3 separate regions of the Homo sapiens genome follow, and all the other regions are reported to be linked to region 3. Evidence: microRNA targets listed by miRTarBase, many of them from high-throughput screens and not tested one by one. Region 3 holds a microRNA gene; each other region holds the end of a gene's coding sequence.
The links. Region 3 holds the annotated microRNA hsa-miR-1257 (AGUGAAUGAUGGGUUCUGACC, at 2,210-2,230, opposite strand). A microRNA usually pairs through its seed, bases 2 to 8, with sites in the 3' UTR of a target mRNA and lowers its output. Matches are read on the target gene's strand: a 7mer-m8 pairs with bases 2 to 8, a 7mer-A1 pairs with bases 2 to 7 and ends in A, and an 8mer does both.

Region 1: the mRNA of COL4A4 is a reported target of hsa-miR-1257. Seed matches in the 3' UTR shown: 7mer-A1 at 1,156-1,162 and 7mer-A1 at 1,418-1,424.
Region 2: miRTarBase lists VKORC1L1 as a target of hsa-miR-1257. Seed matches in the 3' UTR shown: 7mer-A1 at 2,397-2,403.

What each region holds. Positions count from the first base shown.
Region 1 is chr2:227,004,567-227,007,914 of GRCh38, reverse strand. It overlaps COL4A4 (collagen type IV alpha 4 chain), which reads left to right. Exons shown (of 48, transcript NM_000092.5): 48 at 327-3,348. The coding sequence ends at 590. Among named protein-coding and RNA genes, the nearest start is that of COL4A4, 160 kb to the left of the region's middle.
Region 2 is chr7:65,953,793-65,956,792 of GRCh38, reverse strand. VKORC1L1 (vitamin K epoxide reductase complex subunit 1L1) reads right to left here. Exons shown (of 3, transcript NM_173517.6): 3 at 1-2,719. The coding sequence ends at 2,493. Among named protein-coding and RNA genes, the nearest start is that of GUSB, 27 kb to the left of the region's middle.
Region 3 is chr20:61,951,412-61,954,759 of GRCh38, forward strand. It overlaps MIR1257 (microRNA 1257), which reads right to left and starts at 2,251; the gene lies at 2,135-2,251. RefSeq lists a silencer at 689-889 and enhancers at 877-1,449, 2,260-2,759.

The sequences.
Region 1 (3,348 bases), not on the chromosome of region 3:
TAGGACATAAGGTTACGGGGACTGTTGCAAACCATAGCCTGTTGGGATGCAGGGCCATTATCTTTTAAAAACACTTGTGATTGATTTTGATCACATTGGTAGAATTTAGAAGATGAGTTTGCTTCAGCCATCGGTGAAACTGGAGCCAATTTGTGTGCATACTTACCATGCTGAGTACGACTCCTTTTCAGCGCTTGTATTTTGTTCTTTATGGAATAATCTAAGGAAAAATGTTAAGATCAGACCCAAACCTGGGTGTGTCCCTGATTGGGTCTGGGGTTGTCTGTGTGTGTCTGAGCCCTAATTCTCTCTTGTTTTCTGGGTAGCACACAGGAGCTGGGGACCAAGGAGGAGGGCAGGCCCTTATGTCACCTGGCAGCTGCCTGGAAGATTTCAGAGCAGCACCATTCCTTGAATGCCAGGGCCGGCAGGGAACTTGCCACTTTTTCGCAAATAAGTATAGCTTCTGGCTCACAACGGTGAAAGCAGACTTGCAGTTTTCCTCTGCTCCAGCACCAGACACCTTAAAAGAAAGCCAGGCCCAACGCCAGAAAATCAGCCGGTGCCAGGTCTGCGTGAAGTATAGCTAGAGAATGCGAAATTCACCAACACGTGGCCAAGAGAAACTTCCTAGGGGGCTAAGACTTCCTAGACTGTGCTAAGAGATGTCATGGTGCTCATTTTGGACTCCCTTTCAGTGGTTCCTTCTGTTTTGTCGTGGTTATTCCCAGAGTCCTCTGGTTCCTTACACATTAAGCAAATGCTGCACAGATGGATTTGTTTGGACCTCCCAATCTAGGGAGCCTAGATACTCTTATTTTACTGAGGATGATCGAAGAACTGGCTTTACTTAAAAATATGCTAATTCTCAGAAAGGCAAGTAGATGATAAAGGCCAGATTACAAATTACATTACTGAAAACTTCATTCTTGGGTTAACAGTATCTCAAACAATTGAAGTCAATTACTCTATAATACAGTGGGCTTCTGGATGGATTTTATAGGAAAAAATAAACAGGTCAATGAATGAAACTAGAAAGCAGAGATTTTCAACATTTCAAAATGATTTCCTCTGTAATCTATTTTTCCATATACTTTAAATAATGGTAAAACCATGACGCAAAGAGAGATTTTTTTTTAAAGAAGAAAAAAAAAAATTCACACTGCCAGCGTTAACAGTTCCTTTCAAAGGAGAATGAATCATGATGGCAGGAAGGCCCACAGTCGCCGTATTCCAGAGATGCGACATTAGCATAAACACATCACAGATGAATATAAAACATTATGTTCTCTTCTGCATTTTTCAGAGAATAGAAATGCCTACTTTGGCAACCCTTTTGAAAAGTAGCAATTATGGAAAAAAAATATTCAATAAGAGATTAGGAGCCTAAAAGCTATTAGTGAATATTAAGGTAGTTATTCACAAAAATTGACTCCCCATTGCAGTGAACTTCCAGACAGACTGCTTTTCCCCAGTCGGGGTCCGGCGTGTCACAGGTGCGTGCGTGCTAATGGGACTGACGCTACATGGGGCTCACTCAGGCAGGCACGCGCTTCATACAAAGCATCTCACTCCCCTCCCCAGGAGAGCCTGCACAGCTTCTTGCACTCACAACGGACACTTTGCTCCACACACATAATGGCAGCTCACACAGGGACGTGACAGAGCTATCATTATGCACTTGGGAGAAAATTAAGGGCCGATTTAATTAAACTTAGGTAAGAAGATTCATTTAAGTCAGGGTTACCCCATCAGGAGGACATGGCACTATCTTTAAACGAAACAAAGACAATTTATAATTTGAATTTTATGCTCCCGTGGTTGGCTGTTACAGGAGCATCCCATTTTGCCAATTTTAAAGACATTCTTATATTTCATATCAGTCTTGTACCAAGGCAACAGTTTGACATTTGGCATTAGTATTTTCTAAAAAAGTTTAGAATGTGTGTCAATTTATAATGATTATTTTTTTCTGTAAAGCAAAAGATCCCTTTTTCTGTTTTGCTAGGAATTTGGTGATCTAATCCTAAATTTAAAAGATTTGTTGGAAAAAATTTTTAGGAAACTCACCTTCCTCATCTAAAAGAAAAAGGCATTTTAGAGAAAACTAAAGAAATTTCTCATGAGCGTGACACTCATTTTAGTGCTTTGTTTCCGTGCACTTAAAAATAATTGAGAAGAAAAACTCAATTAAAATTTTGTTTATAAGAAATGTTTTCCTTGCCAAACCTTGATTTGTAATGAGCTCTTATATGCAGAACACATTTCAAATGAGTTTTGCTATGGGCTGCCCCCAGGGTGGCAATTTATTTTAAGAGTATTTTCTGGTAAAAAGAAAAATGTGTATTTTAAGATGAAATATTTTCTTGATGTAGCAGAATATTTCCTAGTTCATTTGACCCATTTGATATTTTTTAAACCATGCTCTGGCATGTTGAATATTTTTGTGCACCTAAAACTTAAGCCAATTTCAATCTTATTTGTGATTACCTTTCTCCTTCCCAAAAAGCTTTATCTATTACCAAAAGTCAACCCTCCTAAAAGTTCAACCTGTTCATCTTGAACTTGGCCTGAGAACATTTTCTGGGAAGAGGTAAGGGTGACAAATGGAACATCAGAAACGTATCTTGCTTGCTAATTATTTTAAACACTTTAATGTTGGTATTAGAATATTATCTTCATAAGTTAATAAATAAGTAAAAAAAAAAAACCCACACAAAGACAGGCTAAATTATGTAGACAGTTTACTCCACAGTGAGCTTGGGAAGGTATCAGACTGTTCAAAATGTTAGTATTACAAGAGCTGTCTCTAAATGCAGCATTAACACTGCCCTCTAATTTTACAAAAGTATTTTAAAGGATCAAAAGGGCGGAAAAATAACTTCTTGGAATAGAAGATCCTGTTACCTTAAACCATTATTTTCTTCACCTGGTTATATATCAATGTGCCTTCAATTACCCTTTCTCTGTGGAGGTGATGAACAAAGCTTTTAAGTTGTTCTCCTAACCCATTATTGGAGATGATCCTTATCAAACCCTTCTCTCCCTGCCTCCCCACCAACCTTGTAGACTGGAACGTGCCTAGATTGCCCTAATGGGAACTGTTCTGTTCTGTGCCCGTGCTGGAAATCTGGGATGCTTCCTTCTGGGTTCTGATTCTCAGTGAGTGGAGCCCATTCATCCAGGCAGGTTTCCATGCTATGAGTGGCCCTTTCGTTCTGCTCTCACACTCCCCACATTGAAAGCTGAGTCATCGCTGCTTTGGATGGCTACCTCCTCTTTAGCCCCGTGCCCGTCTCACACAGCCTTTGTTTTCCACCTCCACCCTTGCAGTAGGCATCTCCCAGT
Region 2 (3,000 bases), not on the chromosome of region 3:
AAAACAGGCAAAACAATCTTCTAATTTTGTAACACTGGTGATTCCCCCCCTCTTCTGGGCAGAATCGGAGGTATAGAAAGGAATCTGAATTCTCCAGGGCAAAAAACACCCAATTAACACCCACCAGGATTCTGTTACTGAGACACTGGCATTACAATGCTGTTATGACAGGCAGTACGTGTTCCTCTCTCAGTGAGAAAAAGGGTATTAATTCGACTGGGCCATAGGAATGTGGCAAAAGTTTTTATACAACTGAAACAGTGGTTTCCCCGAGGCTTAGAAAAGCAAAGGAAAAACTGGAAGGGTCTGGCTGACCATTTTGCCATGTTTTCTCAGGTAAGAGTTGAAGACATTTGCAAGAATGCAACATCAAGACAAGCTTTAACTATACTCTGTTGATTGATACAAAATAGGATGAAAAACCATTGGATATTGGGACACGAGGAACTTGTTTAGCACAACCGATGTCATGTATACCACAGTTTTAACCATTAGGCCATTTCCACTGTAGCTTAGAAAAAAGAACCAGAGGACTGCCTTGGTAGAGCTGGATGCGCTGCTACAAGATGGCCTCACTGTACAGCCCTCAAACGTGAGGACTTCTTTCTCCATAGACACCAGATGGCCAATCAGTACTTTCTAGAGTTCTTTAACTACTTCAGAATGCAAGAACAGTACATACATACTCCAACAGCCATTGAAAGATTCACATTCATGGGAAAACACAAGTCTTGATGAAATCTTGACTTAAGCTCTCTTTTAAGAAACTGGTTGAAACTGGTGAAAAGTTCATTATGATTTGGACTTGATACCTGCCTCGGGCCAGAAGACCTACGTTGCATCAATTCTGAGTCAGTTGGAAGCTACGGAATTGTTGCTGACTCTACACATTTGAGTTTACAGAGCAGAGCCCGTCCCCTCCCTTCAAAGAGAAGGCAAATAAAGCACTCAAGAGATACTGGTCTCATTGACTATTTTCAACATAAAATGATTAATCAGGTTGGAAGCAAAAACATTACTGCTGCTTCTCAACCAGAGGATTAAGTGATCACACAGGACCCTTCTGCAGAGTGCAGGTTTTCTACCTGACGGTGAAGAAAGGAGGGAAGGACACTTCTTCTGCCCAAGGTCAACACACAAAATATTTGGTTTGAGATTTAAGACAGAAGGCACTTTTAACATTCTGATATCAGATGTTAACCATACAAACATCCTGTCACAATTTCATTTGGGTGTACTCAAATCCCCTTACAAAAGTCTTCTTACTGCATGTGTGTCATTATGAGAGCAGTGGCGACATGAGCAGATTTAGCCTTGAGATGTGTCTACCTGTTGCTATTCTCCCGATGAAGCAAACTGGGCAGCATGTCAGCCCTGAAGGTTACAAATCCAGTATTTGACTGCAAAACAATTAAATTAGACATCTGAGTGGTTAGTGCAGAAAGAAACAATTAGCAAGAACACTGGCTCCCACTCCGGAGCGATGGGGCTTGGACTGGTCTTTTCCATCATAATACTCTTTGCTTGACTGGCACCAACGTTAAGGAAAAATATCTGCATGAAAATTCAACTAGTGGAAGAAACTTTACCTAAAAATGCCATGTTTATATTTCCAGCTTTTCTCCAAAGAAAAATACCCATTTTCCCATCCTTAGTGTCTGAAGGCCTTGGACTTGAAGGTCTGGCCACATGACTCATTCTGTAAGGTTAACAACTGGCCCAGTTTTATGACTGAACACAAACTGGACTTGAACGTTCCAATTCAATTTTTTCCTTTCAGAAGAGGGAGATGAAAGGGAACCGACCACCCTATTATTATTTTTTTTGCCCTATTATTTGCTGCAACCACGGCTGCCAGTACTTTTCACAAGATGCTGTGTATAGGCTATTTTCACTATCTCCTCAGTCAACGCTGAGCTGACAGTTCTTCAGTGCTACACTCCAACTAAACTGTACAGTAAGTTCTGCAGAAATGGATCTAATATTTCTACCTTTATTTACAAATATCACAAATGGATTCTAGTTGAATCTACATGTTTAAATCCATCGGCTAAAAACATATTACATATTGTAAACATGGCAATATTTAATACAGTATCTATTCTAGAATATTTTCATGTCATGATCACATTTGTTATACCTGAAATTGAATTTATACACATTAAAGAATTACTAGCAATGGTTGCTCACTTTACAATTGAGGGCAGGGGGCTAGGGCTACATTTTATCATTTCAGAAACACTTCAAAGTAAAGTTAAAGCTTGTCTTTGATTGGCTCGGCGTATCCTTTTTGTATCCATATTTAAAATGAAGACTGACACAGAAAATAGCGAGGGCCCCTTCTAATTTACCGGATTTTTAAAAATCAGTTTGAGATTCTTAGGGAAAGTGTCTGTTGTGAATAATAATAATAATAATAATAATAAAAACCTGCTGCAAAATAAACTGAATGGAAAGGGGCTTGAGACTGTTAGGGTGGAGTCTGTCGGGCGTCAGTCCTGCTTGGGTTGCAGCTGCCGCTTCCAGGCCTCGTTCAAGTAAACTAGTCGTTTGTAGTTGATAATGAGAAGAAGGAAGTTCAGCACGTACGTGACGATGCAGATGATGCAGAACTCCTTCAGCACAAAGTACAGAATGTAGGCCAGGTACAGGGACCCCACGACCGACATGATGGAGGACGTCATGAGGATCAAAGCCGCCACAGCGCTTGCTGTCATGCCTGTAAGAGAAGAGACGCAGGCTCAGTCAGGCCTTGGTGCTGGAGAGAGGCTTTCTGAGTGACAAGGAATAACACTGTGTGACTTGCTGCAGTGTTTGAATACTGATCTTCCTGCCAACTCTGAAAATTGAGAACAGAAATACTGCTCTGTTTTGTTAAAATTATACAGGTTGACTCTGCAGTTGATAATGCCAGGTTTTGGGGTTTTTGAGATGGAGTCTCACTCTACCGCCCAGGCTGGAGTGCAGTGGCACAATCTCAACTCATGCAACCTCTACCTC
Region 3 (3,348 bases):
CAGCTACTTGGGAGGCTGAGGCAGGAGAATGGCGTGAACCCGGGAGGCGGAGCTTGCAGTGAGCCGAGGTCCCGCCACTGCACTCCAGCCTGGGCGACAGAGCGAGACTCCGTCTCAAAAAAAAAAAAAAAACCACTCACACGGTTAATCATGGGTGCAGTTGATAATTACAGGCACAATTAACCACTTGCTAATTTTGAGGGTGCGAGCAGTTAATTACATTCACAATTAGGCAACTGCTGTAGGCCTGGGACCGGAGTCCTGGTGGGGGGACACTCCTTGTAATCAGACTCCCAGGGTGAGGCCCTGTGGTGGGGGTGAGGGTCAGGTGATCTGCGAAGCACCCCCCTCCCAGCTTCAAGTGGGGAGCTTACAGGCCTAGAGGTCAGGGCCTGGCAAACGACCTGAAAAATCCAGCTTGAGGCCCTTTCCAGGGAGCCCCAGAGGCCTTCTCTTGGGTCATTTCCCAGGATGGGGGTCGCTGTCACTCCTCTGTCCCAGGAGGATTCAGAGAGGTCAGTTCACAGGCCTATGCTGGGCAGAGCCACTCATCCACGGCACTGGCCACTCAGCCAGGTATTGACAGACCCACCCGCAGGGCAGACAAAAGAGGCATGGCCCAGCCAGCTGCGGGACCCTGCACCCCCCACTCACTCACACATGTGCACATGCACACACATGCACACGTGCAAACACACACACACGCACACACACACAGCCCTCCTCGGCTCACAGGGGGCTGCAGGACGCTGTCCAAGGTACTGACCTCCCTGCTGCTGGGCCCCTCGCTGCTGAGCCAGGCAGGGGAAGTCAGCTGGGCCAACTGGGAGGGTCGGGCAGGGACAGCACCTGAAATCCCTGCTCAGCCCCCTGTGCCGTTCCTGCCCCTGAGACCACGGCCAGCCACCCAAGGGCTACCCCTCAGCAGCCTGAGGACACAGCGCCGGCTCTTCATCTCAAGCACACGGAGGTGCAAGAGGGAGGGTCTGCGGCCTCGGCAGAGACAGCCGGATGCACTGAGACCCTGGCCTGGGGCAGGCAGGGGCTCCCTCAGGGGGCTCAGAAGGGGTCAATGCTGCAGACCACAGGCCGGCCCAGCCTCAGGCACGGTCCACCTGGCACAGCACACTTCACAGTGTTGAATATACTGTTGTATTTGTTTCCTGAGGTAACAAAGTCCCACAAACTCGGTGGCTTAAAAGAAAGACATTTATGCTCTCCCAGTCCTGGAGGCCAAAAGTCTGAGATCAGTATCCCTGGGCCGAAATCAAGGGGTCGGCAAGGCTGAGCTCCCTCCGGGGAATTAGGGGACGAGCCCTCACTGCCTCTTCCAGCCTCCAGTTCCTTGGCTCACGCCCACATCACTCCCGTCTCCACCTCCATCTTCACTTCATCTTAGTGTAACCTCCCTCCATCTCCCTCTTACATATGGACACTTCCCATTGGATTTCGGGCCTATGACTAGTCCTGAAAGATCTCATCTTGAGACCTTCAACTTGATCATATCTGCAGAGACTCTATTTCCAAATAAGGTCACCTTCACGGGCTGTTTTTCTTTTAGGGCGGTGGGGGTGGGGGGGGGGGGATTTTTCAGCTGACCACAATTGTCAACATTAAAAAATCAAGATATTGTAGGGGTCCCACCTAGATATTGAGGAGGTGGACAACAGGAGGACTGGGTCTCTCCTTCATCCCTCAGCTGCCAGGATGGAGGGTTTGGGGGGGGTCATTTCTTACACAGCTCCCAGTAGGAGATGCTGTGTAGCCTTGGGAGTGTCACTTAGCTACCTCTGGGCTTCCTTGTCTGTTGCTGGGACCGTGTATCAGCTAGTTGCTGAGTAACAAACACAAACACGATCTCAGCAGCACAGAGTCAGCATTTGGTTGGCTGGTCCAGGCCAGGCCGCTGGGGCAGCTGAGCTCTGCCCCCCACTCCCTCATCCTCCCCCTGACCAGCAGGCTAGCCACCCTCACTGATGGCAGCAACACAGGACAGCAGCCTGGTCACCGCAGCTCTCAGTTCAGAGCACCACATGCCCCGTGAACATCCCCTCAGTCAAAGCAAGTCACATGGCTGAACCCACAGTCAAGGGGCAGGGAATTAGACTCCACCCCCTTAGTGGGGGAGCTTCAGAGGCACAGGGCAAGCGTGGTTGGCAGGGGTGAAGGATGGGGCCAGTGATGCCAGGGGCCCACAGGGGTGCATGGGGGTCAGAACCCATCATTCACTCCCCAAGCACAAGCCCAGGGCCAGCTGGCCCACAGGTCCCCCTGGTGCCCAGCATCCCCCCGTCCCCCTCCCATGGGGTGGGGCTCGCATCCAATGCCTGGTTCCAAGTGTCCTCCTCATCTTACCTGCATGGTGACCATCCAGGACGCTCTCCCTGAGCCCGCTGCTTACTGAGTGCCACGGAGGCCTGCAGGGGGAGTGGGCACACACAGGAGAGACGCATGATTTGCAATCTCGTTAATGAGCCGTAGCACAATCACAGACCTGCCCTGACAAGGAGCTGCACTCGTGGTAACATAAAACTGTCAGCCAGCTGGGCGCGGTGGTTCACGCCTGTAATCCCAGTACTTTGGGAGGCTGAGGCGGGAGGATCACCCGAGGTCGGGAGTTTGAGACTGGCCTGGCCATCGTGGCGAAACCCCGTCTCTACTAAAAATACAAAAATCAGCCAGGTGGTGGTGCATGCCTGTAATACCAGGTACTCAGGAGGCTGAGGCAGGAGAATTGCTTGAACCCAGGAGGCAGAGTTTGCAGCAAGTCAAGATCATGCCACTGCACTCCAGCCTGGTGACAGAGCGAGACTCTGTCTCAAAAAAAACAAATTTTTTTAATAAAAAAAAAACCTGTCAGCCAACGAAGCTCATTACAAGCTGCTCCTCAGACTTCCTGTCAGCTGGGACTGCATCCGCCTGTTCAGCCCTTCCAGGCCTGGAGCTGGAGCCCAGGAGGGAGGCCAAGGGGTCCCACTGCAGCTGGGGTGCTGACTGTTAGCTACCAGCCCTTCCGTGGGCCTGTCAGGTTCAGTCTCGGATGCTGTGGGGCCCTGGGACCCCTCATGGGAAGCTGACTTGGACCGTTCAAGAGCCCTATCTAGCCCTCAGCAGGACAAGATCCTCTCAGCAACATCCCCAACACACACTCAACCAGACAGCCTGCAAAGAGCCAGTTCTGTATTTGGACAGCTCGGCTCCCCATGGTACCCTTGTACTCCATGGTAAACCAAAACAAGCTTCTTTGTAACTTCCACCTACTAAAACCATTCCATTACCACCAACTAAGACGGATTCTCCACCTGCCCATCCCAAACCTACCCCCAGGTGTCCCGTGTCTCCTTGTCT